Linked DNA regions of Homo sapiens: all the other regions are linked to region 2. The links come from fine-mapping of genetic effects on gene expression. A gene starts in region 2. Each other region holds a variant in brackets. All regions are shown on one strand. Distances are between the middles of the regions. Region 1 overlaps ARID3A (AT-rich interaction domain 3A). Region 2 holds the start of ABCA7 (ATP binding cassette subfamily A member 7). Region 3 holds the start of RNF126 (ring finger protein 126).

Evidence for each region. PIP is the estimated chance that this variant, and not a neighbour inherited with it, causes the effect.
Region 1: its variant is fine-mapped to the expression of ABCA7 in whole blood (INTERVAL, PIP 0.93).
Region 3: its variant is fine-mapped to the expression of ABCA7 in prostate (GTEx, PIP 0.93).

The regions. Positions count from the first base shown.
Region 1 is chr19:966,929-977,133 of GRCh38, reverse strand. ARID3A (AT-rich interaction domain 3A) reads right to left here. Exons shown (of 9, transcript NM_005224.3): 8 at 8,631-8,729; 9 at 1,195-5,256. The coding sequence ends at 5,069. Among named protein-coding and RNA genes, the nearest start is that of WDR18, 12 kb to the left of the region's middle. The variant C/T (reference allele first, on the strand shown) is at 4,868.
Region 2 is chr19:1,036,080-1,045,148 of GRCh38, reverse strand. ABCA7 (ATP binding cassette subfamily A member 7) reads right to left here and starts at 5,042. Exons shown (of 47, transcript NM_019112.4): 1 at 4,953-5,042; 2 at 3,722-3,924; 3 at 3,546-3,639; 4 at 3,177-3,318; 5 at 2,973-3,085; 6 at 2,752-2,834; 7 at 2,323-2,403; 8 at 1,898-2,108; 9 at 1,676-1,815; 10 at 1,308-1,424; 11 at 405-572; 12 at 1-147. The coding sequence starts at 3,787. It overlaps CNN2 (calponin 2), which reads right to left. Exons shown (of 7, transcript NM_004368.4): 5 at 8,903-9,019; 6 at 8,587-8,733; 7 at 6,084-7,524. The coding sequence ends at 7,249. RefSeq lists enhancers at 3,198-3,995, 5,888-6,387, 6,388-6,889, 6,477-7,036 and a silencer at 3,907-4,046.
Region 3 is chr19:661,005-671,209 of GRCh38, reverse strand. RNF126 (ring finger protein 126) reads left to right here and starts at 7,996. Exons shown (of 9, transcript NM_194460.3): 1 at 7,996-8,163. The coding sequence starts at 8,089. RefSeq lists silencers at 7,670-8,149, 8,640-8,929 and enhancers at 8,980-9,029, 9,320-9,379, 9,520-9,609. The variant C/T (reference allele first, on the strand shown) is at 5,885.

The DNA of each region.
Region 1 (10,205 bases), 69 kb after region 2:
GTCATCCCAAATCCCTAAAACGGGATTGGTGTCGGGCTCTCAGCGAGGCACAGAGGTGCCCAGAGCGGCCTCCAGGAGCTCCCCTCGGCCCTGTGGACCTTGCGGTTGGATCCTTCTCTGGGGTGGGGACGTCCTGGGCACTCAGGGTGCCGAGCAGCGTCCCTGGACTTCACCCACTCCATGTCAGGAGCTCCCCCCAGATGGGACAACCACAGATGTCCCCAGACATGGACCAGGGTCCCCTGGGGGCGGAATCACCCTGGTTAAGGCCCTCTGGGTTAGGGGATTCCATGGACCCCCTACAGACTCTGCATCCCATGATCCTCGGCCCTGCTGGGGTCCCAGGAGGCTGCACACACTGAAATCCATGCCCTGAGTAGGGAGGGAGAGAGGAGGCGAGTCCCAGGAGCTGGGTTCCCCCGGGTTTACACCGTCTGCCCTGTCAGGAGCTTATCCTGGTGTCTGCTGTGGGCAGGGAGAACTGTTTTTACCCCACCTTAAATAATGAAGGCAGAATTTCCCAACTCCTGCAGTGTGGATGCTGGGCGCCAGATTGTTCTCTGCGGTGGGGCCGTCCTGGGCACTCAGGGTGCCGAGCAGCATCCCAGGACTCCACCCACTCCACACCAGGAGCGCCCCCCCAGGCGTGACAACCACAAATGCCCCCAGACATGGACCAGGGTCCCCCTGGGGGCACAGACCCTGGCTGAGGACCCCTGCTTTTTTTTTTTTTTTTTTTTTTGATGGAGTTTCCCTCTTGTCGCCGAGGCTGGAGTGCAGTGGCGCAATCTCGGCTCACTGCAACCTCCGCCTCCTGGGTTCAAGTAATTCTCCTGCCTCAGCCTCCGGAGTAGCTGGGATTACAGGCACGCGCCACCACGCCCGGATAATTTTGTATTTTTAGTAGAGATGGGGTTTCACCATGTTGGTCAGGCTGGTCTCAAACTCCCGAACTCAGGTGATTCCGCCCTCCTAGACCTCCCAAAGTGCTGGGATAACAGGCGTGAGCCACCGCACCTGGCCAGACCCCCGCTTTTGTAGCTGTCTCTGCCGCCCGGAACCAGACCTAGAGCGATGCAGGGCAGAGGGGGATAGAGCACCCCCTTCCACTCACCCCTGGCTGTGCTGGGCAGGGGTGTAGGGTGGAGCTGGAGGTTGGGGAGACGCCAAAAGAAAAAAAACACCACAGGACACTTTTCTGTTAAAAGTCAGAAGTGTTTTGTCTCGTTTTAATATCTCATCAGCTTTACAGGGTTACAATCGTCTTAAATATTTCTGAAGTTTAAATACAATCTGCATAATAATGTTACTATAAAATGTAAACTTTCAGTGTTCTTTTAAATTTCAAAATCACACTTTTTTTTTTTTTTGGTCTTTTTGTCTTTTTTTTTTTTTTTCCTTTTAATACCTGAATGTTCTGCGAAAACTGAAATTGTTACAGGCCACCCTGCCGCGGCCAGGGCGAGACAGGCTGGGCCCAGCCAGAGGTAGAGAGTAGTTTTATGTTTTTTAAAAATTTTTTTAAGTTTTTTTTTTTTTCCTCCTATTACCTGAGTTTCAGGCGTGGTTCCCACGCCGTCTGACAAACTCCAGAGAAACTGAAATTTCACACGTCATGAATGAAAGGCTGAGTTTACATTTGCCAAGGAAAAAAATGCAAAAGCACAATTGGGGAAAAAAGGGACAAGGTGGGTAAAACATGATAAGAGAAAGGAAATTCAACTGTACAGATGCGTGACCCTTAACAACGACCCCAGCTGCCCCCCGTGCCCCGTGCCCACCCTCCCGCCTTTCTGGACAGCCACTTACGGGTCCCACGGAAGGTTCCAGAAGCCGCCTTTCTCCCAACATCTCAGAGCAGGGGGAGCCCCCGTTGGCCTTGACTGTGGGGCACCCACTCAGTACGCAGCCAGGCCCCACGGTCCCAAGTGAACTAGAACCCATCCAGGGTCCTCGTGGCTGAGGGGACTGCCCGACCCCCTCCCAGTCTGCATAAGGGGGGGTGCTGAGCTGCACCCCAGAAAGCCACACCGAATTTAAACCCCCACCGACAGGCGGTGGCAGGAGATGGGCACGGCTGGGGTTGAACGGGGCCACCTGAGGCAGGGAGGAGCCTCTGCAGACACGGCTTCCTGCCGAGTATCCAGGACCGGGCCCCATAGACCCTCTGCAACCGCCTCCCATTTCCACGGCCAGCATGGCCACTGCCTTCAGCGACTTCCTTCTCCTGGGCCGGGACCCAGCCTCGCGCCCACCCCCCACCCACCCCGCCTGTCCCTACAATCATCGGAGTTAACAGCAGGCTCAAGTCCTCTGAGTTAGAATCCAGGTCCACCCACCGCCGGGAGGCCGGATCGCCCACAGACACGACACGCAGGATTCCCGACACACACACGCAGCCCGAGGGAGACGACCCAGCCCTCGACCCTGCACGGCCCCTCCCCAGGCTCCGAGGTGGGCAGGTGCACGGGGGCCCCAGGGGTCCAGGGCCGCCAGATGCAGCAGGCAGCCAGGCCCCAGTGGCTGCTGCAGACCCTGGTGCACGGGAGGCGGGGGAGAGGCACCCCAGGGGCTCAGATTTTGGCATCAAAAGTCAGACCTGAGGTAGACAGAGATAGGCAGCAGGCGCTTCCCCCGGCGCGGGGCCCAGGCGTGGGACGGGGGTCCCGGGAGAGGAGCCCTGGAGGCCGGGGGACAGACACGGACAGAGTCCAGGTGGTTCTGCGAGTGGGGCCCGATTGTGTCTGGAGGCAAACAGACACCCCCTTCCCGGGGTGATTGTGCTGCTACGGTGCTGGCCCCAGGAAGGGACAAGGAAAACCTAGACGCCCACCACCCCCTCCTGGAAAGGGGGTGTGTGTCCACGGCCCTGAGATCCGAGAAGGAAGTGGGGGTCCCCTCCCCAAAGACACAGGAAAGTGACAGTCCCCTCCCACAGCCCGACGGGAAAGTGAACCTAGACTCAGGGGCTCAGAAGCCCCCCAGCCCCCTCCCCAGGGGTCTCCAAGGCAATGGGGAGGTGGTTGGGAGTGGGGGGAGCTGGGGAGTCCCCTTCCTCACCAAGCCCCCATGCCGGTGGCCTAACAGGGCTCCCAGGGCCCAATTAGAGACCCAGGCTTACCCTGGGAATAGCTGAGTTAATCCCCACTGCACCCCAAGAGAAATGAAAGCCCAGAGCTCCCGTGTAGGACACGACAGCCCCGCCCAACACCACGCGGGTCCAACGAAGTCCCCAGACCCTGCTGGGCATTTCAGACCCAGCCTTTCTGCTCCAGCAGCTCCAGCCAAAATAACCCCCCAGCTCAGCTGCGGTGACCCCACTTTCTCCAAGCCAGGGGGAGGGGTACTGACCCACAGGGTGGTGGGGGGCAGCCTCCCTTCTCGGCCTCGATTTAGTCACCGCAGAACTCGGGGAGCTCGCAGCCCCAGCACAAAAGGGGTTGGGAGAAGAGGAAGGGACAGAGCGAGGAGAATGTTGGGGTGTGGGGGGTGTTCAGGATGCCGGGGCCCTGAAATCCTCACCCTGAGTGAGGTCCGGCTTCACCCCCACTCCCCAGTATTGATAGTCCTCAAAAGCAGCCCTTTCGGGCAAGAGAAGAATCCCAATGAGACGCCACATTCATCCCTGAGACAGGAGCCTGGGGGCTTCGACAAGAACCACCCCCGCCCCCCAGGCCCTTTTTCCAGCACTTGCTACTTTTTAGATAAGATTTCCAGACCGGGCCAGCGTGGCGGCTCATGCCTGTAATCCCAGCACTTTGGGAGGCCAAGGCGGGCAGATCACCTGAGGTCAGGAGTTCGAGATCAGCCTGACCAACATGGCAAAACCCCCATCTCTACTAAAAATACAAAAATTAACTGGGCGTGGTGGCGGGCGCCTGTAATCCCAGCTACTCCGGAGGCTGAGGCAGGAGAATCGCTTGCACCTGGGAGGTGCAGGTTGCAGTGAGCCAAGATCGCACCATTGCACTCACTCCAGCCTGGGCGACAAGAGCAAAACTCCGTCTCAAAAAAAAAAAAAAAAAAAAATTTCCAGGCCCCTGACTCGAGAGCCCAGCAGACAAGCACGGCACAAGCAAAAGCATCGTGGAATATCACAGTCAGCAATTCACTGTCAGGGGCCCCTGGCCGGTGGGACCCCAGCATGCACCCTCTGCCCCAGCCCGGCCCATAGCACCTGAGTTCATTGGCTCCGCGGCTCTAGCCCCAGGGATCCGATGTGCTGGGCTCACAGCTGCCCAACGCACCCCCAGAAATGGACAAAGGGACCCAAATTGGTCATGGGAAAAATAAAAAGGTGAGTTTTTTTTTTTTTTTTTTTTTTTTTTTTTTGCTTTTTTTTCTTGCTTTTTCAAGACCAGTTTCCCTGAAGGAACACAAATATATAGCTATATAGATATATAGATATCCTTTTCCTAAGGTTTGATCCCCCCAAGAATAAAATAGAATATTTACACAACAAAACCCCCGAAACCTCTTAAAAACCCTACAGAGAAAAAAAAATTTCCCAAAGCAACAAGAAAAAAACAAAAATTCAGTGATCTTGGTTCAGGGGTTTCACTGGACACGAGAAGCTGGGAGTGGTGAGTGTGTGGTGAATAGAAAATAAAAGAGAACTAAAGCAGACAAAAATGAAAACACACAGTGCAGGGATGTATGAGGTAAACAGGATCGGCCCACACTGCTGTGGGGCCAAACCAGACACCAGAGCCTTCGGTCCATCAGGGCTGCCTGAACGCCCTGGGAAACGTCTGCCTCTTTCTGTTTTTCTGATGGATTTCTTTGCTGTTCTCACAATTCATCTCTCTGAATGTCCAAAACCTGAGAAATTCAAGTGTTCCTTGGTTTTCCCCTGTTTTATTAAATT[C/T]TCTTTATATATATACGTGTATATATATATATATATATATATATCTTTTTTCTTTTCTTTTTGGCGTCAGCTGTGGCTCCTTTCTGGATATCTTCCCTCCCCACCCGTATCTTCCGCCATCCTGGCCCCTGTGTGGCCCACCTGGACCCCCTGCCCAGGCCGGCGGGCTCCAGGGTGGGTGGCGGGTGGGGAGTGATGCGGTTAAGGCAACGAGTTATTTGAGGTAGATGTGGAGGGTGTGGACAGCCCCGCTGGCCCAGCCTGGCCGCCGCTGGTTCCGGTGTTTCCTCCCCGGCCGCCTGCGTTGCTGCTGCTGCCGCCGCCGCCGCCGCCTCCTTTGTTGGGAGCAGAGGTTGGCGTGGGGGCCGGCGGCTGAGCAAACAGAACTCCTAAGGCAAGAACAGAAGACATATGCCATGCAGAGTTTAAGAAGATGCGAGGCGGGCCACAAGGGAGACCCAATGGGGTGCTCCGGGGAATAAACTTCTCTCTCACTCTGTCCCCCAGGCTAGAGTGCAGTGGTGGCATCAGAGCTCACTGCAGCCTCAACCTCATGGGCTCAAGTGATCCTCCCAGCTCAGCCTCCCGAGTAGCTGAGACCACAGGGGCGTGCCACCATGTCTGGCTAATTTTTTATTTTTTTGTTTTTTTTTGAGATGGTGTCTCGCTCTGTCGCGCAGGCTGGAGTGCAGTGGTGCGATATTGGCTCACTGCAACCTCCACCTCCTGGGTTCAAGCAGTTTTCCTGTCTCACCCTCCTGAGTAGCTGGGACTAACTACAGGCGCCTGCCACTACACCAGCCAATTTTTTATTTTTAGTACAGACGGAGTTTCACCATGTTGGCCAGGCTGGTCTCCAACTCCTGACCTCAGGTGATCCACCCACCTTGGCCTCCCAGAGTGCTGGGATGACAGGCATGAGCCACTGTGGCTGGCAATATTTTAGCAATTTTTTATTTTTTGTAGAGATGGGCTCTCAATATGTTGCCCAGGCTGGTCTCAAGTTCCTGGCCTAAAACAATCCTCCTGCCTCTGACTCCCAAAGTGCTGGGATTACAGACGTGAGCCCAGCTTAAACTTCCCCACTGTGTCTGCTCACTCCTTCATCACACACATGTGCATATATATGGATGCACGTGAGCACACACGTGTGTTTAATCCACACATGCACATCAGCGTGCACACAGCTCTTGCAGGGAGAACCCTGATGCCCATGGTTCGTTGATGTGGGGTTGCGAGACCCCTAGCACACAGTTGGCCTTCTCCCCTGTAAGATTCAATATGAATGTACACGTTTTACATCTGATTTCCGGAGGGCACGGACCCCTCAAAAATCCATTTGTGGACCTGTGAGGACACCACTGACCTTCAGCTCAGCCTCTGACCACAGCCGGGCGGGGGCCTGCAACAAGGCTGCTCTGTGTCGACAGCGCCACCTGGTGGCCACTATGAACCATCGGCCTGACTCCACTTTAAGAAAAACTATTCATTTACCGCCGGGTGTGGTGGCTAATGCCTGTAATCCCAGCACTTTGGGAGGCCAAGACCAGCAGATCACGAAGTCAGGAGTTCGAGACCAGCCTGACCAACATGGTGAAACCCCGTATCATCTAAAAATACAAAAATTAGCCGGGCCTGGTGGCATGCACCTGTAATCCCAGCTACTCAGGAGGCGGAGGTTGCAGGAGCTGAGATCATGCCATTGCACTCCAGCCTGGGCAACAGAGTGAGACTCTGTCTCAAAAAAAAAAAAAAAAAAAAAAAAAAAGAAAAACTATTCATTTACTTATGTTCTTTTGTAGAGATGGGGTCTTCTGTGTTGCCCAGGCTGGCCTCAAGCAAACCTCTCTCCTTAGCCTCCCAAAGTGTTGGGATTACAGGCGTGGGCCACTGCCCCTGGCACTGACTCCACTTTTTTAATTAAATTTTTTAATTCTTTTTTTTTTCTTCCTCTGAGACGAAGTCTTGCTCCATTGCACAGGCTGGAGTGCGGTGGCGCGATCTCGGCTCACTGCAACCTTCGCCTCCCGGGTTCAAGCAATTCTCCTGCCTCAGCCTCCTAAGCAGCTGGGATTATAGGCACACACCAGCACACCTCGCTAATTCTTGTATTTTTAGGGAAGATGGGGTTTCACCATGTTGATCAGGCTGGTCTTGAACTCCTGACCTTGTGACCCACCCACATCAGCCTCCCAAACTGCTGGGATTACAGGTGTGACCTACTGTGCCCGGCAACTTTTTAATTCATTTTATTTAAAAAAATATGTATATATAGGGTGGGCGCGGTGGTTCATGCCTGTAATCCCAGCACTTTGGGAGGCCGAGGCAGGCGGATCACCTGAGGTCAAGAGTCCAAGACCAGCCTGGCCAACATGGTGAAACCTCATCTCTACTAAAAATACAAAAAAAAATTAGCTGGGTGTGGTGACACACGCCTGTAGTCCCAGCTACTTGGGGAGGCTGAGGCAGGAGAATCGCTCGAACCCAGGAGGCACAGGTTGCAGTGAGTCAAGATCGTGCCACTGCACTCCAGCCTGGGTGACAGAGGGAAGACTCCCTCTCAAAAGAAAAAAAAAACAACTATATATATATATATCTATGTAGATATAGATATAAAAGTATATATGTATTTATAGATACATATAAATCTATATCTAATCTATATATATCTATGTATAGCTACAGCTATATCTATCGATATATCTATATATAGATATATAGAGAGAGAGAAGGACGGGATCTCACTCTTTCACCCAGGCTGGAGTGCAATGGTGTGATCTTGACTCACTGCAACCTCCACCTCCTGGGCTCAAGTGATCCTCCCTACTCAGCCTCCCGAGTAGCTGGGACTATGGGCGCCTGCCACCACGCCCTGCTGATTTTTATATTTTTAGGAGAGATGGGGTCTCACTATGTTGCCCAGACTGGTCTTGAACTCCTGGGCTCAAGTGATCCTCCCGTGTTAACCTCCCGAAGTGCTGGAACTATAGCCATGAGCCACTGCACCCAGCCTAGATTCAATTTTTTGGATACCTCATTTACCCTGATGTGATTATTAGGCATTGGATGCCAGTATAAAACATCTCATAAAACCCATAAATATATATACCTACTATGTACCCACAAAAATTACAAATTACAAATTAAAAAAAATAAAAAATACATTCATTAAATTTTTTTTCAAGAGACAGGGTCTCGGTCTGTGGCCCAGGCTGGAGTGCAGTGGCGTCATCACAGCTTGCTGCAGCCTGAAAGTCTCTAACCCCTGGGCTTATACATTCTTTGCTCCTCAGCCTCCGAAAATGCTGGGATTGGCTGGGTGCGGTGGCTCACGCCTGTAATCCCAGCACTTTGGGACGCCGAGGCAGGAAGATTGCGTGAGCCCAGAGTTCAAGACCGGTCTGAGCAACAAAGCAATTTAAAATTTAAAGAGCAACAAAAAATTTAAAAATTAACCAGGTGTGCTGGTGCATGTCTGTGCAAGACTCCGTCTCATTAAAACAAAAAACTAGGAATGTGAACCATCCAACGTCACACTGAATATGTATCTGTGGACGACCCCCTCTGGGCTGAGCGTGGTACCGGGTGAACGATGGTATCCTCTCCATCAGTCTTGACTGTTTGTCCTGCAAAGCCCCTGGCCGTGCCCTGCTCGCCCGCACACCTAGGTTCAAGCAGGTGGGACCAGGCGCAACTCAGGGTCCTGAGTTCACGGCGGCGGGAGAGGCGAGGTCCAGGCAGGGCGTGGCCTCAGGGGTCCTACCTGTGTACATGATGCCGTTGATCTCCACCGACATGCTGATGCTGTTGCTGCCGTTGGTGCCCGTCAGGTTCACAGCAGAGTCCTGGCGGCTTTCGGAGGCTGTGGGAAGAAGAACAAATTAGTTTCTTTTTTTCTTTTTTTTTTTGAGACAGAGTCTTGCTCTGTTGCCCAGGCTGGAGTGCAGTGGCGCGATCTCAGCTCACTGCAAGCTCTGCCTCCTGGGTTCACGCCATTCTCCTGCCTCAGCCTCCCAGTAGCTGGGACTACAGGCGCCCGCCACCACGCCTGGCTAATTTTTTGTATTTTTAGTAGAGATGGGGTTTCACCATGTTGGCCAGGATGGTCTCGATCTCTTGACCTCGTGATCCACCCGCCTCGGCCTCCCAAAGTGCTGGGATTATAGGCATGAGCCACTGTGCCCAGCCGAACAAATGAGTTTCTTTCTTTTTTTTTTTTTTTGAGACGGAGTCTCACTCTGTCACCCAGGCTGGAGTGCAGTGGTGCGATCTCGGCTCACTGCAACCTCCACCTCCAGGGTTCAAGCAATTCTCCTGCCTCAGCCTCCTGAGTAGCTGGGACTATGGGTACACACCAGCACACCCGGCTAATTTTTGTATTTTTAGTAGAGACGGGGTTTCACCATGTTGGCCAGGCTGGTCTTGAAGTCCTGGCCTCAGGTGATCTGCCCGCCTCGGCCTCCCAAAGTGCTGGGATTACAGGCGTGGGCCACCGCGCCCGACCAAAACTGCCATTTCTGATCATAAAGACACCTGTGACATGTTCTGTTTTCTGTCTGTCTCGCCAACTAGATTTTAGCTTTACAAGGTGTAGACGGTGTCTGTCACATTCATGCTGTCACCAGTGCACACAGTAGGTGCTCAATATTTATTTGTTGAATAAGTGTATTTGTCCATACTCCACTTTGTTTTTTTTTACCTTGTTTTTGAGACCAGGTCTTGCTCTGTCACCCAGGCTGGAATGCAGTGGTGCAATCATGGCTCACTGCAGCCTCGACTTCCTGGGCTCAAGTGATCCTCCCATCTCAGCCTCCCGAGTAGCTGGGGCTACAGGAGCGTGTCACCACGCCCAGCTAACTTTTGTAGAGATGGCATCTCACTGTGTTGCTCAGGCTGATCTCAAATTCCTGGGCTCAAGCAATCCTCCCATTTCAGCCTCCCAAAGTGCTGGGATTATAGGCATGAGCCACGGTGCCCAGCCAGTTTACTTTATTATTTTTTATTTTTTGAGATGGAGTTTTGCTATTGTTGCCCAGGCTGGAGTGCAGTGGCGTTATCTCGGGTCACTGCAACCTCCATCTCCCAGTTCATGTGATTCTCCTGCCTCAGCCTCCCAAGTAGCTGGGACTACAGGGGTGCGCTGCCACGCCCGGCTAATTTGTTGTATTTTTAGTAGAGATGGAGTTTCACCATGTTGCCCAGGCTGATCTCGAACTCCTGACCTCAAGTGATCCACCCACCTCGGTCTCCCAAAGTGCTGGGATTACAGATGTCAGCCACTGCACCCGGCTTTTTTTTTCTTATTGATTTGTTGGCACTCTTTACATATGTAGGCTCC
Region 2 (9,069 bases):
GGTTGGGTGCTCTGTGGGGTCTGAAGAGTCCTCAGGTCCCAAGAAGACGACGCCGGCCCAGAATCGATGTTCCGCGAGCAGTTGCAGGGCCCGCGACACCAGGGCTGCCTCTGAGGGTGCCGCCTCCAGCTTGTCCAAGGACAGGCACTGTGGGATGCGGGGGTGAGTCCTAGGCGCTGGGGTCCGCCTGCCTCCTAGACCACTCCGCTCCTCCCCCTGGACCTCGGGGCTGGGCCATGTTTTCCCCTCGTAGGCCCACGGCCGGCTCCCTCCTGAGATCTCTACAAATCCCAGGCTCTTACTAGGGCCGGGCCCGCCTCCCCCTGGGAACACCAGGGTGGGAACACTAGGATGGGACCTGCCCTCCCCACTGAAACAGACCCCGCAGGTGGACAGGCCCTCACCTCCGTCACTCGGCCCAGCGTGCCCACCAGGTGCCCCACATCAGCGTGTGCGTCCTGCCAGCTGTAGCCACCGCTCCCAGGGTCCAGAAAGGATCGCAGGGCCTCCATGTGGTCCCGGCCTCCAGGTCTGGGCTGCCTTCTTCCTTCATCCTGCATCTGCAGGAGCCGCTGGGGGGCGCAGGTGAAAGTGAGAGTCTGGGTCGGGCACAGTGGCTCATGCCTGTAATCCCAGCACTTTGGGAGGCGAGGCGGGTGGATCACCTGAGGTCAGGAGTTCGAGACCAGCCTGGCCAACATGGTGAAAGCCCATCTCTACTAAAAATACAAAAAGTAGCCGGGAGTGGTGGCGCATGCCTGTAATCCCAGTTACTTGTGAGGCTGAAGCAGGAGAATTGCTTGAATCCAGGAGGCGGAGGTTGCAGTGAGCCAAGATCTCGCCACTGCAGTCCAGCCTGGGCAACAGAGTGAGACTCCATCTCTTAAAAAAAAAAAAAAAAAAAAAAAAAGCAGGACGTGGTAGTTCACGCCTGTAATCCCAGCACTTTGGGAGGCCGAGGCGGGTGGATCACGAGGTCAGGAGATCGAGACCATCCTGGCTAACATGGTTAAACCCCGTCTCTACTAAAAATAAAAAAAAAAAATCATCCGGGCGTGGTGGTGGGCGCCTGTAGTCCCAGCTACTCAGAGGGTGAGACAGGAGAATCGCTTGAACCCGGGAGGTGGAGGTTGCAGTGAGTCGAGATCACGCCACTGCATTCCAGCTTGGGCGACAGAGCGAGACTCCATCTCAAAAAAAAAAAAAAAAAAGTGGGGGTCTGCACGGAGCCCACCTTCCCATCCACCGGGCCTGTCTACCCTCCTCACCGGGGAGCCACATCCCACCTCCCCAGCACCCCCGCACACCTGCAGCATGGCCACATTGGAACTGTCGTTCATGAAGGTGAAGATCCGGGGTCCCAGCATCTCCCACACCTCCCGGACATCCCTCAGCAGGGTGAGCTCCTCGAAGGTCCGGTTCACCTGTGGACAGCACCCCCTCCACTGATGACCCTCTCCTCCTCTGAGGACCCCTGCCCACCCCCTGCCCCCTCTGCCTTGCTCCTGCGTGTGCCTCTGATCCTCCGCACAAGCTGATCCCCCTCCATCGGCTAACTCCTACTTCTTCAAATAGTTTCCGTGACCCTCCGGCCTGGCCCTGGCCCACCTGGACTGAGGGTACTGGATGGGCTCTGGCCACCACCCTCCCACCCCAGCATCCAGGCTGCCCCCACCTGGGCCATGAGCTTCCGGGTAAAAGGTGTATCTGGTGCAAAGAGTAGCTTCCCGAGGATCAGAGGCTTCAGGCGTCTCCAGAGCAGGCGGGACAGCGGGTGGCTGTCCAGGGCTCCAATCAGCTCCGAGCAGGCGGGGCCTGGGATGGGGGTGCCATGAGGCCCTGCCCCCCTGCCCAGAGTTCCACTTCCCAAGAGGGGAAACCGAGGTCAGTCACTCACTCAGGCTGCTGTCTGGCAGGGCGGATTCTGGCTCCTGCCCCACCAGCTCCATCAGGTCACTAGCCTCGTACCAGTTGAGGGAGGGGCCCACTGTGCTGCTAGGTCCCCTGACACTGCAGAGGGCCTCTGACAGCAACTCCAGGGGGCCGCTGGTCCCTCGGGGTCTCTGCAGCAGTGCCCGAAGCTCCACCAGGCTGCGCAGCGCCAGGAGCTAGAGAGAGGTTACCAGACGGAGCTGGCAATGATCCCACCTCCAAGCCCTAACCAGGGCAGGGCACTGGGCCAGGGGCAGCCTCTCCCTCTCGCTGTCTAATCCTCCTGAAAACCCACCCAAGGGAAGTGCCCGGGCTGCCCCAGACCCTCCCGGCGCAGGCTGCCTGCCAACGTTGCCTCCATGGGGGTTGAGGATGAGTGGGGCCTCGTACCTCCTGGGCCAGGTCCTCAGCGGCCTCCAACAAGCTGTGCAAGGGCTCCTGGGCTTGGCCCAGTGCCAACCCCAGGGATTCCTGGGGAGAAAGACCACAAGGGGGACAATGATTTTGAACACTCACTAGGGGTCCAGCGCTCTGGCCAGTTCCCAGGCAGACCATACTATCATAGCCCCCACTTTACAAATAGGGAAACTGAGGCTCTGAGAGGCAAAGGGACTCATTGGAGATCTCACAGACGAGTCTTCCTCACTGGGTCAGACACACTCTGTCTGGGGGCCCAGACGGACAAGCAGCATCACCGCAGAGACCAGGGACAGCCTGGATGCCTGGAACGGGAGGTCCTTGGCCCGGGGTGGGGCAGTGCCAGGACATCCCCAGTGCAGTGTCCCAGGAAGTCAGCGCGGTCCCGCCCCGACACCCTACCGTGCGCAGCAGTGACGTCAGCAGCTCCGCGACATCCAGCATGGGTGGTTCCAGTGGAGACTGCTTGGTTGGTTGAGGCTGGGCTGGGGGAGGAGCGCACGGGAGCATGGGGCTGGGGGGACGTTGGTCTGAGGCACCCACCCCCACCCTGTGCCCATTTCACGGCCCGGCAAGTTGAGGCTCAGAGCTCAGCCCTGCCAGAGGCCCCCCGGCCTCCTCACCCGTGCTGCGTGCAGCCCTCAGCGTGGCGATCAGCTTCCCTAGGCCAGCCAGCGTCCTGTGGGCACTGGCCCCTCCCAGCACAGTGCGGGCATCGGCTAGCAGCCGGGAGACCCTGGGGACAGAGAGAGGGCAGGAGGCGGGGTTCCGGCCGGCACTGCAGCCCCGAGTTTGCAGGCCGGCCGCACCCACTGCCTCTGGCTCACAGGGAGTCGTTGAAGTTGCTCAGGCGCCCGGGCTCCTCGCCCGGTGTCAGCTGCGGAAAGCAGGTGTTGTTCACATTACAGATGAGACCCTGGAGCCAGGGCACGGTGCCCGCCGATGGCAGTGGCTTGTTTGGGAAGTGGCCTGCGGGGAGACGCCTGGTGCTGAGGCCCTGTGGACTCTGCCTGACTCCACCCCCATCGGGTCGCCCGGCACCGCTTGCATGCCTCCAGCGATGGAGAGCTCACTCCCATGCCATGTATTGGCGGCCTGGTGAAGGCTCCCTGACATGCACGGGGGATTCCTGTGCACGGGTGAGCCATCTGCCTTCCCCTACACACACAAAGTGCCTGGTCCCTGGGGGGGCTCACATTCATGGTGCTCCAGGGGCGGGTGGGAGTGGCGAACAGCCACCAGGATGAAGAAGAGGAAGAGAGGCCACAGCAATTCGACCAGGAGCTGGACCTGGGGGAGAATAGGTGGGAGACGGTGGGGGACAGTGGGGGCTGCCTGCCCACCCGGCCCTGGTCTCACACTGGGGCGTTACCGGCTGTCTCCGGCGATACATGAAATTCTTCCAGAGCAGCAGCATCAGCTGTGTCCAGAAGGCCATGGTGAGACTGGGCAGGGGACGGGACAGAGAGGTCAGGACAACGGTCGGGCTGAAGACGTGCGGTGCGGCTGCGGGCAACTCCCTGCCCCTTTCTGAACCTCATTCCTTTATCCCACAGCGCAGGGTTCCTGGAAGCTCTGATTAGAGCGAGGCAAACAGTAGTCACTCGATAAAGAGGCTCCGCTACCCCAGGGGTGGAGTAAACCAATGGGAGCGCAACCCGCAGCCGTCCTCGCATCTGATTGGCTGCCAGGACTGTCGCTCTGAGCAGGGCTGACAGCTGGGGACTTAAAGATCATCCTCTAATCCTCCAGGGACCGAGTTTGGGCTTAACGCTTTCGTCACCAGGCTCCACCCCAAGCCTCACCTGGAAGCCTCTTCCAGGTCCTGACCCCCAGCCTCCTGCCTGGCCCAGCCCAGGCAAGGATTCCTTTCCCCTCACTGTTCTCCGAAGATAACAGCAACGAATATTGGCAGTGCTGGACATTTCACACGCCCAGGGGAAGTGCTGGACTATCACCCCACTCTACAGAAGTGGAAACCGAGGCCCAAGAAAGCAAACCCAGGCACCCAGAGAGACAGGCAGTTGCCCAGCTGGAGGCACGACCCCAGCTCTGCCCACACCTTATGTAGCATTAATCGCTCAGAGGGACCGCGGGAGCCAGAGAAAGAGTCAGGCGAAGGGGCTGGGATAGAGACTCCTGGAGTCAGCGATTCCTGATCTATTTTCCTTGGGCCGGTCCACCTCTGACACAGATGGAGAATCTGACGCTGACAGAGGGGCAGGAAGTTGCTAAAGGTGACCAGGCCGGAACTGGGACCTCAGACCCAGACCCTTACGCCAGGGTTCTTTCCTTTACATCAAGCGGGACTTAGGATCTGGGGGAGTGGGCTCAGTTTCTCCATTTGTAAGACGGGGCAAGGGGGAGTGCAGGAGTTCTAACGGGCAGGGGGCTGCAGGTGTGTGATCGGCAAAGGCCCTCTTAAGGGTCCCAGATGTCCGATGCCCCCCTTGAGAATCAGTGATCAATTCAGCCGTCGTCAACATTCACCGGAAGGAGGTCAGAGGCTGGACCCCCTAATTCCCAGGGAACTTGCATCCCTCCCGGCCCCAACCCCGCATTCTCGAGTCTCGGGCCTTCTTCCCTCTCCGAGTCCTTCTCACCTTCCAGGGGCTCCGCAGCTCTTGCCGCCTTCCCTCCGCCCAGCAGCAGGCAGGGAGCGCGCCGCCCCTTAAGCCAAGTGCGCTGAGCTTGCCCGCGCAGGTAGCAGCGCCGGGGCACGCCCCTGCCTCTGCACGCTGCTATTGGGCGACCTGCCCGTCACTCACTGGCCTGCTCCGTCGGAGCTGCGCGGGCCAAGGGAGGAGACGGGATCACAGAAGGGCCTCGCCTAGCCGGGTTTCTTAAAGGGACCGCGCGGCTCTTGCTGCATCACCGTAGGGTGGCGGAGTGCCCGGCAGGTCCCAGGCAGGCCGCCCTCCGGGAACGAGGCTGCGCTGTCTTTGGGGAGCCAGGCTGCCTCCCCACGTTGTATAACCGGCTGCAATACCGCAGCTCCGAATTGCAGGAGTTCCCTCTGTCCCCGCTGTCCCCGGGGCTGGCCAGGCTCCCTCTAGTTTAGTCCAGACTCTGGGACTACACTCGTCCGTCTGTAAAGTAGGGGTTCCACTAGATCATTCGTTCATTCATTCATTCCACGAACGCTCCTCGGCTTCTGCAGAGGATGGCAGGAGGGGGAGGGGGCCAACATTCTAGAGTCTCCGATTATAGTGGCTACCCTGATTTTGAGGAAAACCCGTTTCCCACTCTGGAAGAAGAGTTGAAATAAACTCTTCAGGCTGGAGGTGAAGCTGAAATGGGAGCGTGTGGGTCCACAGCTTTGAAGGCGCTGGGGAGAGTGAGAGGCGTGGGGACGGCTCCCGCGGCAGGAGGTGGCATTGCCGTTGGGGCTTTGAGGATAAATAGGAGTTCGCCAACGGGGAGACATCCAGGCTGAGGCCACGAGACTTGCGCTGTAAGGTAGAGTGCAGCCAAAGCGCATGGGGGGCATTTGAGGGAACTGCCTCTTCTCCAAATGGCCAGGAAGCCCAGCCTCTCCCTCTACCCCAAGTCCCGGCCCTTCAAATCATTCATTCCACCCAGACTCACCTGTGGCTTCAGCTTTTGCTCCTCCTCCCAATGGTGAGGTGGACATTTTCCCCTTGATCCCCCCATCCCCCAAGACCTCCTCTCTCCCCACAAAAGCATCAAAGCAAAGCACGCCCTCATCGACGCCAACTCTCTTGGCCACCTTCTCTTCGTACAAACAGAGGTTTTATTGCGTTTGGTCCACAGTCGTATTTCACATTATCTCACGGAGCAGGTCCCCTGGGTGGGGGGTCCCTGTGCAGTACTTGGCGGGGCATGTGGCCGGGGAAGATGGAGCAGTATAAGCTGGTCGGGCCCAGAAGGGAGGAGGGCTGGGGGCTCCTTAAAACCTACTGAGGGGCTGGGCACGGTGGCTCACACCTGTAATCTCAGCGCTTGGGGAGGCGGAGGCGGGCGGATCACACCTGAGGCCAGGAGTTCGAGACCAGCCTGGCCAACATGGGGAAACCCCATCTCTACTAAAAATACAAAAATTAGCCGGGCGTGGTGGAGCACCTGCAGTCCTAGCTACTCAGGAGGCTGAGGCTGGAGAATCGCTTGAGCCCGGAAGGTGGAGGTGCAGTGAGCCAAGATGGCGCCACTGCACTCCAGCCTGGGCAACAACCACAACTGAAAAAAAAATCTACTGAGGCCAGAGTGGGTTGGGGCGGGGAGCATGGAGAGGGGGTCAGGCTTAGCCCCAACAACTCAGAATTTCACTTCCTTGTACGGCCCTCACTTTCTCCACCTGGCCCCGGGGCAGGTCTGAGGGTCTGAAGTCTGTTGGTCTGAAGGTCCTAGGCAAATCCAGTCACTTGGGAGCCGGAGATATTTAACATCACGGCCCGGTCCCCTTTCCCAGGGGACTCATTTCCTAGCACTCTCTCCACTGTCCTTGCCCCACCCCTGGGGGAAAAAATGTATTTTTCTTTTGTGAATACTTCCTGAAACTTGCGGGCATAGAAACCACAAACTGCTCAGCTGACAAAAGGGGGAAGAGGCGAGGCAAGCAGAAACCGTCGGGGACCGGTTCCTTCCAAGCCCAGGTCTCTTCTTCCCAGCACAGCCTGAATGTGCCAGCAGGGACCCTCGCCCTACACGTATTGGGATATGGCCTTGACCCCTTCCCCCACAGCCCAGTGGCTCAGCCTTGCGAAGGATCAAGGCAAAGGGGAAAAAAGCTCTGCTGCCTGATCCCACGCTGACACTCACAGACCCTTGGTTGACTGGCAGCACTGAACGGGTTAAGAAAAAAAAAAAAAAGATGAAAACACAGAAAAACCCAAAAACCCAGATGGGCAGACGATGTGGGGAGAGAGCGTGCTGGGAGCCTCAGTAGCCGGCCTCCTCCTGGTAGTAAGGGGGATATTCAGGGACCTCCCCCGGGTCCGGGCAGTCGCCGGTGCCCGAGGGAGCCCCATCGGCCACTGTGCCTTGCGGGCAGTACTTGGGGTCATATATCTGCCGGCCCAGGCCGAAGACCTGGCCGCTCTGGTTGGCGCCCTGCGTGTAGCCCATCTGCAGGGACATGGAGGAGTTGTCACACTTGTCGGTTCCCAGCTTGGTATCATAGATGTGCCGCCGGGTCCCGGGAGCCGTCATGCCCACCTGGAGAGGAAGGAGGGGTGGAGCAGGTCATGGTGGAGAGAAGAGGGGACCTTCACTGGGTGCACTGGCTCACGCCTGTAATCCCAGCACTTTGGGAGGCCAAGGTGGGAGGATCACCTGAGGTCAGGAGTTCCAGTCCAGCCTGGCCAACACGGTGAAACCCTGTCTCTCCCAAAAATACAAAATTAGCTGGGCGTGGTGGCACATGCCTGTAATCCCAGCTACTCGGGAGGCTGAGGTGGGAGGATCACCTGAGGTCAGAAGTTCAAGACCAGCCTGGCCAACACGGTGAAACCCCATATCTACTAAAAATACAAAAATTAGCCGGGCGTGGTGGCGGGCGCCTGTAGTCTCAGCTACTCGGGAGGCTGAGGTGGGAGGATCACCTGAGGTCAGGAGTTCAAGACTAGCCTGACCAACACAGTGAAACCCCGTCTCTACTAAAAATACAAAAATTAGCTGGGTGTGGCCGGGTGCGGTGGCTCACACCTGTAACCCTAGCAGTTTGGGAGGTCAAGGCGGGTGGATTGCCTGAGCTCAGGAGTTCGAGACCAGCCTGGGCAACATGGTGAAACCCCATGTCTACTAAAAATACAAAAATTGGCCGGGTGTGGCAGCATGCACCTGTAGTCCCAGCTACTCGGGAGGCTGAGGCAGGAAGGAGAATCTCTTGAACCCGGGAGGCAGAGGTTGCAGTGAGCCGAGATCGTGCCACTGCACTCCAGCCTGGACAACAGAGTGAGATCCTATCTCAAAATAAATACATAAATAAAATAAATAAAGATTAAAAAAAAAGAATTGGGTGGACCTTTGGGCAGTCCTTAAGGGAAAATGACACAGGGTGAGGTAGTAACTTCCCTAGAGACCCACAGCCAGGTGGAAATGACAGAGGCTGAAATCCAAGGCGGAGACAGAGAGCGGGGAGGGAAGCCGGAGGTGGTCTAGGGAAGGGGCTGAGACTGAGAGTGGGGAGAGAAGCTGGAGGTGGCCCCAGGGAGGGGCCGAGACCACAGGGTGTAGAGGGGCAGGGAGAGGAGTCGGGGGCACCCGGGCGAGCCCCACCTGGCTGGCACACTTGTTCGTGCCCATCTGGAGGCTGATGGTCGAGTGGTCCATGGGGGGCAGGATATGGTTCTTGGGGTCATAGAGATGCCTTCTCGTGCCGTAGGCAGTCATGCCCGACTGGCTGGCGCATTTGTTGGTGCCCATCTGCAGGGAGGTTCGTGGGAGAGGTCAGACTGCACCCAACAAGCTTCCGGTCCCTCCCTGAAATTGAGGGACCACAGGGCTCCATGCCGCTGTCCCCCAATGCTGCTGTCCCCCAACACCGTGGTCCCCCAATGCCGTGGTCCCTGGGGCTGGGGGAGCTGTCGCCCACCTGCAGCCCGATGACGCACTGGCCAGCCTTCATGGTGGCATCGTCGAAATTCCGCTCCTGCTTCTCCGAGTACTTGACGCCAATGTCCACCCCGCTCTGCAGCCCCTTAGTCTTGGCCTGGGTGAGGGAAAGGGGCCGGGAGTACCAGCAGAGGGCAGCCAGGGACC
Region 3 (10,205 bases), 370 kb after region 2:
GGCCCTGGAATTTTGCTGGGAGAGGGACAGGGACACCTGCTTCCTGCTGGGGCTGGAGAGGTGTGAGCCTGAAATTGCAGGTGGCTCTTTCTGATGGCTAGGGAGAGGCCAGCCCCGTGGGCCACAGAGCCAAAGGGGACAGCAACAATTCCCAGTGACATTGGAGGTCCCTGGATCCAGCTGTGCCTGAACTCCTCCTCCGCAGGGAGATGAAGCCAGTTTAAACCGAGTTTCTGTACCTTGGAGCTGATAATAATAACCATCTTTGTAGTCAGCAGGTTTGCATTCATGCAAGGAGAGCCTTTAGGACCCAGAGCAGCGTGTTCTGTGGGGCTCTAGGGAGCTCACCCTGCGGTACCACCTTCGGCCTCCAGGATGGGAAGCGGGTTGTGGCTTGGTACAGAACAGTCAGGGACACCCGGTCCCACCTTCCTGAGCCCAAAGATACTTGGCATTGGCTTACTGTCTATTGTCTGCAGCCTCTGAGCTAGAACTTGCCAACCCCTGGGCTCCAGGAGGCAAAGACTTGCTGGACTCCGGAGCCTGTGATGCTGATAACATGGCTCAGGCCTGAAGGCCTGGCCTGGTGGGCGGTGTGGGAACACTGGGAAGTGAGCTGGGCCCTAAAACAACCCCATCAGCCGGGTGCGGTGTGAGCTGGGCCCTAAAGCAACCCCACTGGCCAAGTGCCACGGCTCACATCTGTAATCCCAGCACTTTGGGAGGCTGCGGCGGGCAGATCATTTGAGGTCAGGAGTTTGAGACCAGCCTGGCCAACATGGTGAAACCCCGTCTCTACTAAAAATACAAAAAAAATTAGCCGGGCGAGGTGGCACACTCCTGTAATCCCAGCTACTCGGGAAGCTGAAGCAGGAGAATCACTTGAACCCAGGAAGCGGAGGCTGCAGTGAGCCAAGATCGCGCCACTGCACTCCAGCCTGGGTGACAGTGAGACTTCATCTCAAAAAACAAAACAGCTGGGCGCAGTGGCTCACGCCTGTAATTCCTGCACTTTGGGAGGCTGAGGTAGGCAGATCACTTAAGGTCAGGAGTTTGAGACCAGTCTGGCCAACATGGTGAAACCCCATCTCTATTAAAAATACAAAAATTAGCTGGGTGTGGTGCCGGGTGCCTGTAGTCCCAGCCACTCAGGAGGCTCAGGCAGGAGAATTGCTCGAACCTGGAGGGCAGAGGTTTTGGTGAGCCGAGTTCGCACCACTGCACTCCAGCCTGGACAACAGAGCGAGACCCCCGTCTCAAAAAAAATAAATAAATAAGGCCAGGTGAGGTGGCTCACGCCTGTAATCCCAGCACTTCGGGAGGTGGAGGCGGGTGGATCACGAGGTCAGGAGATCGTGACCATCCTGGCTAACACGGTGAAACCCCGTCTCTACTAAAAATGCAAAAAATTAGCCGGGCATGGTGGCGGGCGCCTGTAGTCCCAGCTACTCGGGAGGCTGAGGCAGGAGAATGGCGTGAACCCGGGAGGCGGAGCTTGCAGTGAGCCGAGATGGCACCACTGCACTCCAGCCTGGGCGACAGAGTGAGACTCCATCTCAATAAATAAATAAATAAATAAATAAATAAATAAATAAAAGAAATCTGACATGTATCGGGGGGACCCATTCCCCCCATATTTCAATATAAATTCTTTCTATTTTCCATAAGTGTCGGCTGGCTGAGAAATAAAGAGGAAGAGTACAAAGAGAGGAATTTTACAGCTGGGCCGCCGGGGGGTGACGTCGCATGTCGGTAGGATCGTGCTGCCCCCTGAGCCTTAAACCAGCAAGTTTTTTATTAAGGGTTTCAAGAGGGGAGGGGGTGTGAGAACATGGAGTAGAGCTCATGCTTCAAAGGGCAAAAAACAGAACAAAGATCACTTGCTTCTGAGGGAACAGGAGAAAAGGCAACACAGAACTACTGATAAGGGTCCATGTTCAGCGGTGCACGTATTATCTTGATAAACATCTTGAACAAAAAATAGGGAAACGTCTGACCACAAATTCACCAGGGTGGAGTTTTTCCCCACCGTAGTAAGCCTGAGGGTACTGCAGGAGATCAGGGCGTATCTCAGTCCTTATCTCAACCACGTAAGACAGACATTCCCAGAGCAGCTGTTTATAGACCTCTCCCCAGGAATGCATTCCTTTCCCAGGGTATTAATATTAATATTGCTTGCTAGGAAAAGAATTTAGCGATATCCTCCCTACTTGCATGTCCTTTTATAGGCTCTCTGCAAGAAGAAAAATATGGCTTTTTTTGCCTGACCCTGCAGGCAGTCAGACCTTATGGTTGTCTTCCCTTGTTCCCTAAAATCGCTGTTATTCTGTTTTTTCTCAAGGTGCACTGATTTCATATTGTTCAAACACACGTTTTACAATCAATTTGTACAGTTAACACAATTATCACGGTGGTCCTGAGGTGACATACATCCTCAGCTTACGAAGATAACAGGATTAAGAGATGAGAGTAAGACAGGCGTAAGAAATTATAAAAGTATTAATTTGGGAACTGATAAATGTCCATATTAAAATGAAATCTTCACAATTTATGTTCCTCTGCCACAGCTCCAGGCGGTCCCTCCGTTCGGGGTCCCTGACTTCCCGCAACAGACATGAGTCTTGCTGGGCTAAAATCAAGTGTGTTTGGGGACTTTATTTATTTATTTTGAGGTGAAGTCTCTCACTCACTCTGTCTCTCAGGCTGGAGTGGAGTGGTGCAATCTCAGCTTACTGCAACCTCTGCTCCCGGGTTCAAGTGATTTTCATGCCTCAGCCTCCCGAGTACCTGGGATTACAGGCAGGCACCACCATGCCCGGCTAGTTTTTTTTTTTTAACAAGATGGAGTTTTGCTCTTGTTGCCTAGGCAGGAGTGAAATGGCAAGATCTTGGCTCACTGCAACTTCTGCCTCCCAGATTCAAGCGATTCCCCTGCCTCAGCCTCCCGAGTAGCTGGGATTACAGATGCCTGCTACCATGCCTGGTTAACTTTGTATTTTTAGTAGAGACAGGGTTTCTCCATGTTGGTCAGGCTGGTCTCGAAGTCCCAACTTCAGATGATCCACCCACCTCGGCCTTCCAAAGTGCTGGGATTACAGGCATGAGCCACTGCACCCGGCCATTTTTTTTTTTTTTTTTTTTTTTTTGTTAGTAGAGATGGGTTTCACCATTTTGGCCAGACTAGCCTCGAACTCCTGACCTCAAATGATCCACCCGCCTCAGCCTTCCAAAGTGCTGGGATTACGGGAATGAGCCACCGCCCCTGGCCCAGTTTGGGGCCTTTACTCTTCCGATCATGGTGCTCGATACTGTTGGGTGGATGGCTGGTTTCAGCAGACGTTTGTGGCACAGGCCCCGCTCCTGGCACAGAGCGGAGGCTCCACGACACTTGATGAAGCAACGGTGGCCCAACCCCTGCCAGGATGAGGGTGGAGGGAGGAACTGTTTCCTTCCTCAGGAGGCAGCCACAGTCCAGTCCCAAAGCTGCCGCCTCAGGCAATCGGCTTCCTCCCTGGGCCTCAGTTTCCTCATTGGTGCAATGGGGCCAGCTGCAGTTATTTCTTCCCAGGGGGGTTGGGAGAAGTGAATACACAACCACTAGGTCTACCTGGGACGTGGTCTGCCTGGGCTTGGTCTGCCTGGGACGTGGTCCACCTGGGCTTGGTCCGCCTGGGACGTGGTCTGCCTGGGACGTGGTCCGCCTGGGCTTGGTCTGCCTGGGACGTGGTCTGCCTGGGACATGGTCCGCCTGGGACGTGGTCCACCTGGGCTTGGTCCGCCTGGGACGTGGTCCGCCTGGGACGTGGTCCACCTGGGCTTGGTCCGCCTGGGACGTGGTCCGCCTGGGACGTGGTCCGCCTGGGCTTGGTCCGCCTGGGACGTGGTCCGCCTGGGACGTGGTCCGCCTGGGACGTGGTCCGCCTGGGCTTGGTCTGCCTGGGACGTGGTCCACCTGGGCTTGGTCTGCCTGGGACGTGGTCCACCTGGGCTTGGTCTGCCTGGGACGTGAGAATGAGCTGTCAACACACCTCTCTGCCCCGGAGGGAGTGGCGCGTGTCATTCCTTTAGGAGTCCTCTCGTCTCATGTTTGCCGAGGCCCCCAGGGTTCACGGGGACGGGATCCTGAATTGAAAAAGGGGCTAAGAGAGCTCACGGAACCAAGCCCACACCTGTCGAGGTCCCTGGTGAGAGGAAATGGGAGAAACGGTGCCGTCTGTGGAACCAGGGTGGCCGGTGGGGCCTGGGGCAGGGTGCAAGTGTGTGCATTTGTGTGCAGCAGTGTCAGTGCCCACTGGCCGATTTGATCAATGTGCTACTGCCTTCAGGGAAGAGCAGCCTGCTTTTTGGTGTGTTTGGGATAAAGGGGTGGCCGGGCACTCTGGCTCACACCTGTGATCCCCACACTTTGGGAGGCCAAGGTGGGAGGATCCCGTGAGCCCAGGAGTTGGAGATCACTCTGGGCAACATAGCCAGATCCTATCTCTACAAAATAAAAATTTAAAACGATTAGCCTCACGCCTGTGATCCCAGCACTTTGGGAGGCTGAGGTGGGCGGATCACCTGAGGTCAGGAGTTGGAGACCAGCCTACTTAACATGGAGAAACTCCGTCTCTACTAGAAGGACAAAAATTAGCCGGGCGTGGTGGCACATGCCTGTAATCCCAGCTACTTGGGAGGCTGAGCCAGGATAATCGCTTGATCCTAGGAGGCAGAATTTGCAGTGAGCCCAGATCATGCCACTGCACTCCAGCCTGGGCGGCAGAGGGAGACCCATCTCAAACAAAACAAAACAAAACAAAACAAAACAAAAAAGATGGGGTCTCCATCTGTGGCCCAGGCTGGAGTGCAGTGGTCCGATCTCAGCTCACTGCAACCTCTGCCTCCTGCTCAAGTGATCCTTCTGTCTCAGCCTCCTGAGTAGGTGGGATCACAGGTGCCCGCCACCACACCTGGCTAATTTTTGTATTTTTAGTAGAGACACGGTTTCACCATGTAGCCCAGGCTGGTCTTCAACTCCTGGACTCAAGTGATCCTCCTGCCTCAGCCTCTCAAGGTGCTGGGATTACAGGCATGAGCCACTGTCCCCGGCCTAATTCTATTTTTGTAGAGACAGGGTCTCACTATGTTGCTCAGGATGGTTTTGAACTCCTGGTCTCAGGCGTGAGCCACCTCGCCCTGCTTAGTTTGATACAAAATCCCTACGTTCCTTCTCATTCCCACTGTGTTTCCAGCACCTGCTTGAGCCCAGCACACAGTAGACACTCGGCAACTGTTGGTGCATTTGGGAATCTACTGAACACCTACTGGTGCGCTGGGTATTGGCCTCACATATGGGGAGACGCCATTAATAACCCACAGATGTGAGGATGGCTGTGGGGGATGGAAAGGGGGCTCTGAGAAGTGGGGTGCAGTGGTGGATGGGGCAGCCTCCTAAAAACCAGGGGAAAGGGCCGGGCGCGGTGGCTCACGCCTGTCATCCCAGCACTTTGGGACGCCGAGGTGGGCGGATCACCTGAGGTCAGGAGTTCGAGACCAGCCTGGCCAACATGGCGAAACCCCAGCTCTACTAAAAATACAAAAATTAGCCGGGCGTGGTGGCGCATGCCTGTGATCCCAGCTACTCGGGAGGCTGAGGCAGGAGAATCGCTTGACCCCTGGAGGCGGAGGTTGCAGTGAGCTGAGATCGCACCATTGCACTCCAGCCTGGGCAACAGAGTGAGACTCCATCTCAAAAAAAAAAAAAAAAAAAAAAAAAAGCAGGGGAAGGAGAGGGGACTTGGGGAAGGGCACAGCCTTGCAAGGCCCAGAGGTGGGAACCTGCTTAGCCCACCCAAGGGGGCCAGTGAGGCTGGGGAGGGGTCAGCGAGGGGCAGGTGACTCGGGG[C/T]AGGCAGCAGAGCACAGAGAGGGCTGAGGAGGTGCCAGCGGTCCTCATGTCTGCTCCGAGCCAACGGAAAACCGTCAGGTTCTGCCGCCTTCTCAGAGGTTAGGCCACTTGCCTAGGGACACACAGCCAGTTCGTGGTTTGGCGTCGTTTGAACCAGGCCTGCTGCTCCTCCTGCACTTGCGGAGCGTGAAGGCTGGTGCAGGGGCTGCGTCTGGCAAGCCTCGCCCCTCCCCAGCCTGGGGTTTTCCTGGATTCCCAGGGACGGGGCCCGTGCGCTCTCTGGTGGTCAGAGCAGGAATGACTGGATTCGCGCTGCTGCAAAGACGACTGGAAGGAGGCTGAAGCCCCTGTCCCCAACCTCTGGACATTCAAAACCCTAAATGCAGGCCGGGCGCGGTGGCTTACGCCTGTAATCCCAGCACTATGGCAGGCCGAGGCGGGCGGATCACCTGAGGTCAGGAGTTTGAGACCAGCCTGGCCAACATAGTGAAACCCCGTCTACTAAAAATACAAAAATTAGGCGGGCGTGGTGGTGCCCAGCCTGTAATCCCAGCAACTCGGGAGCCTGAGGCAGGAGAATCACTTGAACCCGGGAGGCGGAGGTTACAGTGAACCGAGATTGCGCCATTGCACTGCAGCCTGGGCAACAGAGCCAGACTCCATCTCTAAAAAACAAACAAACAAACAAAAAATCTAAATGCACAGGCTCCAACTCTTAATTCCTCAACAGTCTCGCTCCAATGCCTCATTTTGCAGGAAGTCCAACTCCAACCAAATCCTATTCATCCCTCAGCCCTGGTTCCAATGTCCTTACCCCTCGGAAGCCCTCTCTCTCTTTCCCCAGGCAGAGCCAGAGTCACCCTTGAGTTCCACGCTCCTGTCCAATCTCATGGGACTGGGGGTATCTGCGTGCATTCAGCATAGGGTCTGGTGTGCAGTAGTTGCTCAATGAGTGTTGAGTGAAGAAAGAAATACACGCATGAGGCCGGGCGCGGTGGCTCATGCCTGTAATCCCAGCACTTTGGGAGGCCGAGGCGGGCGGATCACGAGGTCAGGAGTTCAAGACCAGCCTGGCCAAATATAGTGAAACCCCGTTTCTACTAAAAATACAAAAATTAGCCGGTGTGGTGGCGGGTGCCTCTAGTCCTAGCTACTCGAGAGGCTGAGGCGGGAGAATCGCTTGAACCCTCGGCAGGCGGAGGTTGCAGTGAGCCGAGATCGGGCCATTGCACCCCAGCCTGGGTGACAGAGTGAGACTCCGTCTCAAAAAAAAAAAGAAAAAAGAAATGCATGCATGATTGGGCCAGAACTAACCTCAGAAATGATCCTGGCCTGTGCTGGGTGATGATACCGTTTCTACTGATTAAATTTGGAAGCAGGGGTTAGGTTTCCTGCCTTCTCCGCACCCGAGAGGCGCCTGGGCCGTCAGCCCGTGGAGCATCTTGGAAACAAGGCCACAACCCACAGACCTCAGCCTCTGTCTGACCCCACGGGTCCCAGTGAGGCCCAGACAGCGCCCTGAGCCCCGGGTCTGCCTGTATTCCGCAGCGCTGAGGGAATGCCTGCTGTGTGTCAGGCGCTGCTGCGGGTCCAAAAATCCCTTTGCTGCGCAGCTGACCTGACAGTGCATCGGGAGGGAATCAGTGCCACGGAGCAGGAGGGCAGCAGAGAAGACCTTGTAAGCTGACATTTGAGCAAAGACCTGGAAGAAAGCCACGCGGGCGTCGGGAGAGCGCTGCACCGGGCAGCGGGCGGGGGAGAGGGCGCCTGGCGAGCCCCAGGAACGGTGGGGACAGTGGGCTGAAGTACCGTGAGGGGAGACGGCGATGAGGTAGGGAAGCACTGAGGGACACGAAGGCCTGGGCAGCTTCGGGAGGGGAGGAGGGCCTCGGCCCCGCCCCGCGCACGCCCCGCTTCTCGTCTCTTCCGCCGCCTGCTTTGGCCCCGCCCCCGCCGGAAGCCCCGCCCCCGCTTGGAGCCCCGCCCAACGGCCGGGCCTAGTTTGTCTCTCAGCGGCCACCGTCGCCCGGGCCGCTGCCCGCCGAGTACGCAGCTTTCGCCGCTCCCGCGCCCCCGCTCCGCCCCGCGTGCCGTGCGTGCCGTGCGTGAGCGTGCGCGGGCGCGTCGGCCGGCGAGGGAGCAGCAAACGGCCGGCGGCGGGTGCCGCGCGGGGGGCGGGCGGCGCGGAGTAGGTGGCGGCGGCCATGGCCGAGGCGTCGCCGCATCCCGGACGGTACTTCTGCCACTGCTGCTCCGTGGAGATCGTCCCGCGCCTGCCGGTGAGGCCCGGGCCGGGGCGGCGGGCGGCAGGGTCTGCGCCGCAGGCCTGAGGCAAGGCCGGGGCCGGGGTGGGGGTCGCTTGCGCCCGCCTCTTGCGCGAGCTGACCACGACGGGAAAACTGAGGCTCGGGGCAGCGCCGGCCCAGGCTGAATCCGCGGGGAGCCCGGGCGGTGCGCGCGCGAACCCCGTCCTGTACATGCGGGAGACTGAGGCCCGGGCGGGAGGCAGGGCCTGGCCGGAGCGGCGCAGCGGGATCGCGGCCGGGTGACCCCACATCCGCGGCGTTCCCGACCCGAGAGGCCGCGAGGATCCCAGGTGGGATCCCTAAGCCCGGTGAGCCTGGTTTTGCAAACGGAGAAACTGAGGCCCGGCGAGCAGAGAGAGGGTATTGCCCGGTGGCGCGGCGCGGGGCAGGGGCTGGGCCTGGCGGGGCTCGGACCCCGAGAATAACGCCAGGGGACCCCCGCCGAGCGCGTGGTTGGGGGCGCCGGCGCCTCGCTGCAGGCTCGCCTCGTGGAGCCCTGGCCGCCGCCTTGGAGGCAGGCCCAGGCCCGGAACGCCCCAGGCACTGTCCCGGGGTCCGACCGCGGCCCGCCGGCGGGGCTTTGTGAGCAGAGCCTGCGTTCCTCCCCTCCCGGGGCTTGGCTGCGCAGCCCACCCTTCCTCCAGGTGTTTACAGCCGCCCCTCACCGAAGAGGACCCTGGGCCTGGGCGTGCCGAGTGCTACTTCCTGCTCGTTTAGGGCAGTGTTTCCCACGCGGACCTGATGTCACCTTGGGGGAGGTGGGAGCAGCGCTCGTTGAAGGTGCTATTTCCAGGCCCCTTTTCCAGGGTTTCGGAGTCAGTAGGTGTGGAATGCGCTCAGCAGTCTGCATTTCTAATATTATTTTTAGGAATGGGGTCTCCCTGTGTTGCCCAGGCTGGTCTTGAACTCCTGGGCTCAAGCGATTCTTCTGGCTCAGCCTCCCAAAACGCTGGGATTACAGGTGTGAGCCACCGTGCCCGGCGGTGGTCTGCATTTTTAACCCGTGTTGCCCTTCGCCAGGCTGACGTGCAAAGTGGTGATTTAGTCGAGCCACCCGTGCTTTATAGATGGGGAAACTGAGGCGCGTGGTGGCTCAGCGGGAAAGTGGCAGAGCCGGCTCAGTCGGGAGCCGCTTGGCCAGCTTGAGGGGAGCAGCCGCAGGAGGTGGAGGGGTCTGGACTCCCCACCCTGTGCCCAGGGGAAGAGGCTGCAGGCATTGAGGATTTACTGTGCTGTGTACGTAGCCGCCCGGCTGTTGCTACGCTTTGACCCGTAAGAGAAGTCCAAGCCCCCCAGAAGCAGTGCAGTTCCCCGGGAGTAGAGACCCAGGAAGGGGCTGGAGGGAGTCAGGAGAAGCCGCCTGTCTCTGGGTCACAGAGGAGGAGCGAGTGCTAGAGTTGGGGCATGGCGGGAGAGCGGGGCCAGGCCCAGGAGTGGAAAGAGAGAGGTGTGGTTTCCTCTCTACTGAAGCCACAGGGCTTCCCCTCCCCAGCAGGAGGAACAAATAAAGTGAAATCTCGGGTGTGGGGCGAAGGTTGGGGAGCTGAGACTGAGCCTTGCCTTACTCCTCTGTCTCCCAGGGGTCTCGCTCTTGCCTCTTCCAGCTTTCTGTCCCCACTGGCCGTGGCAGGAGAGGCTGGTTGCCTGACAGCCCGCCAGCCTGGGTGAGTTGCAGGGCAGCCCCTTGCAGCCCCTTGAGCCCTGGGACAGGCCTGGGAAGCCCCTGGGAAGCCTGGAGTGGTGGCTGTGGGGGGCCGACACTGCCTTGACTCGGCTGCACATTTAGCTGCTCCTAGAGCCCGCACAGGACTGGATCCTGGTGTGGTGGAGCCACTTCCTCGCCCCGTGGCCTTGGACACGGAGGACCTTGACCTCCTCCGACTGTCACTGGGCCTGGGGAGGGCCTTCCTGTAGTGAAAGGAACTCTGTGGTGACAGGCCGCTGTGGTCTTTGCCCTCACAGAATTTACAGGCTGGCCAGGGAGCCAGCATGGAACAGTGATTGACAAATATTTA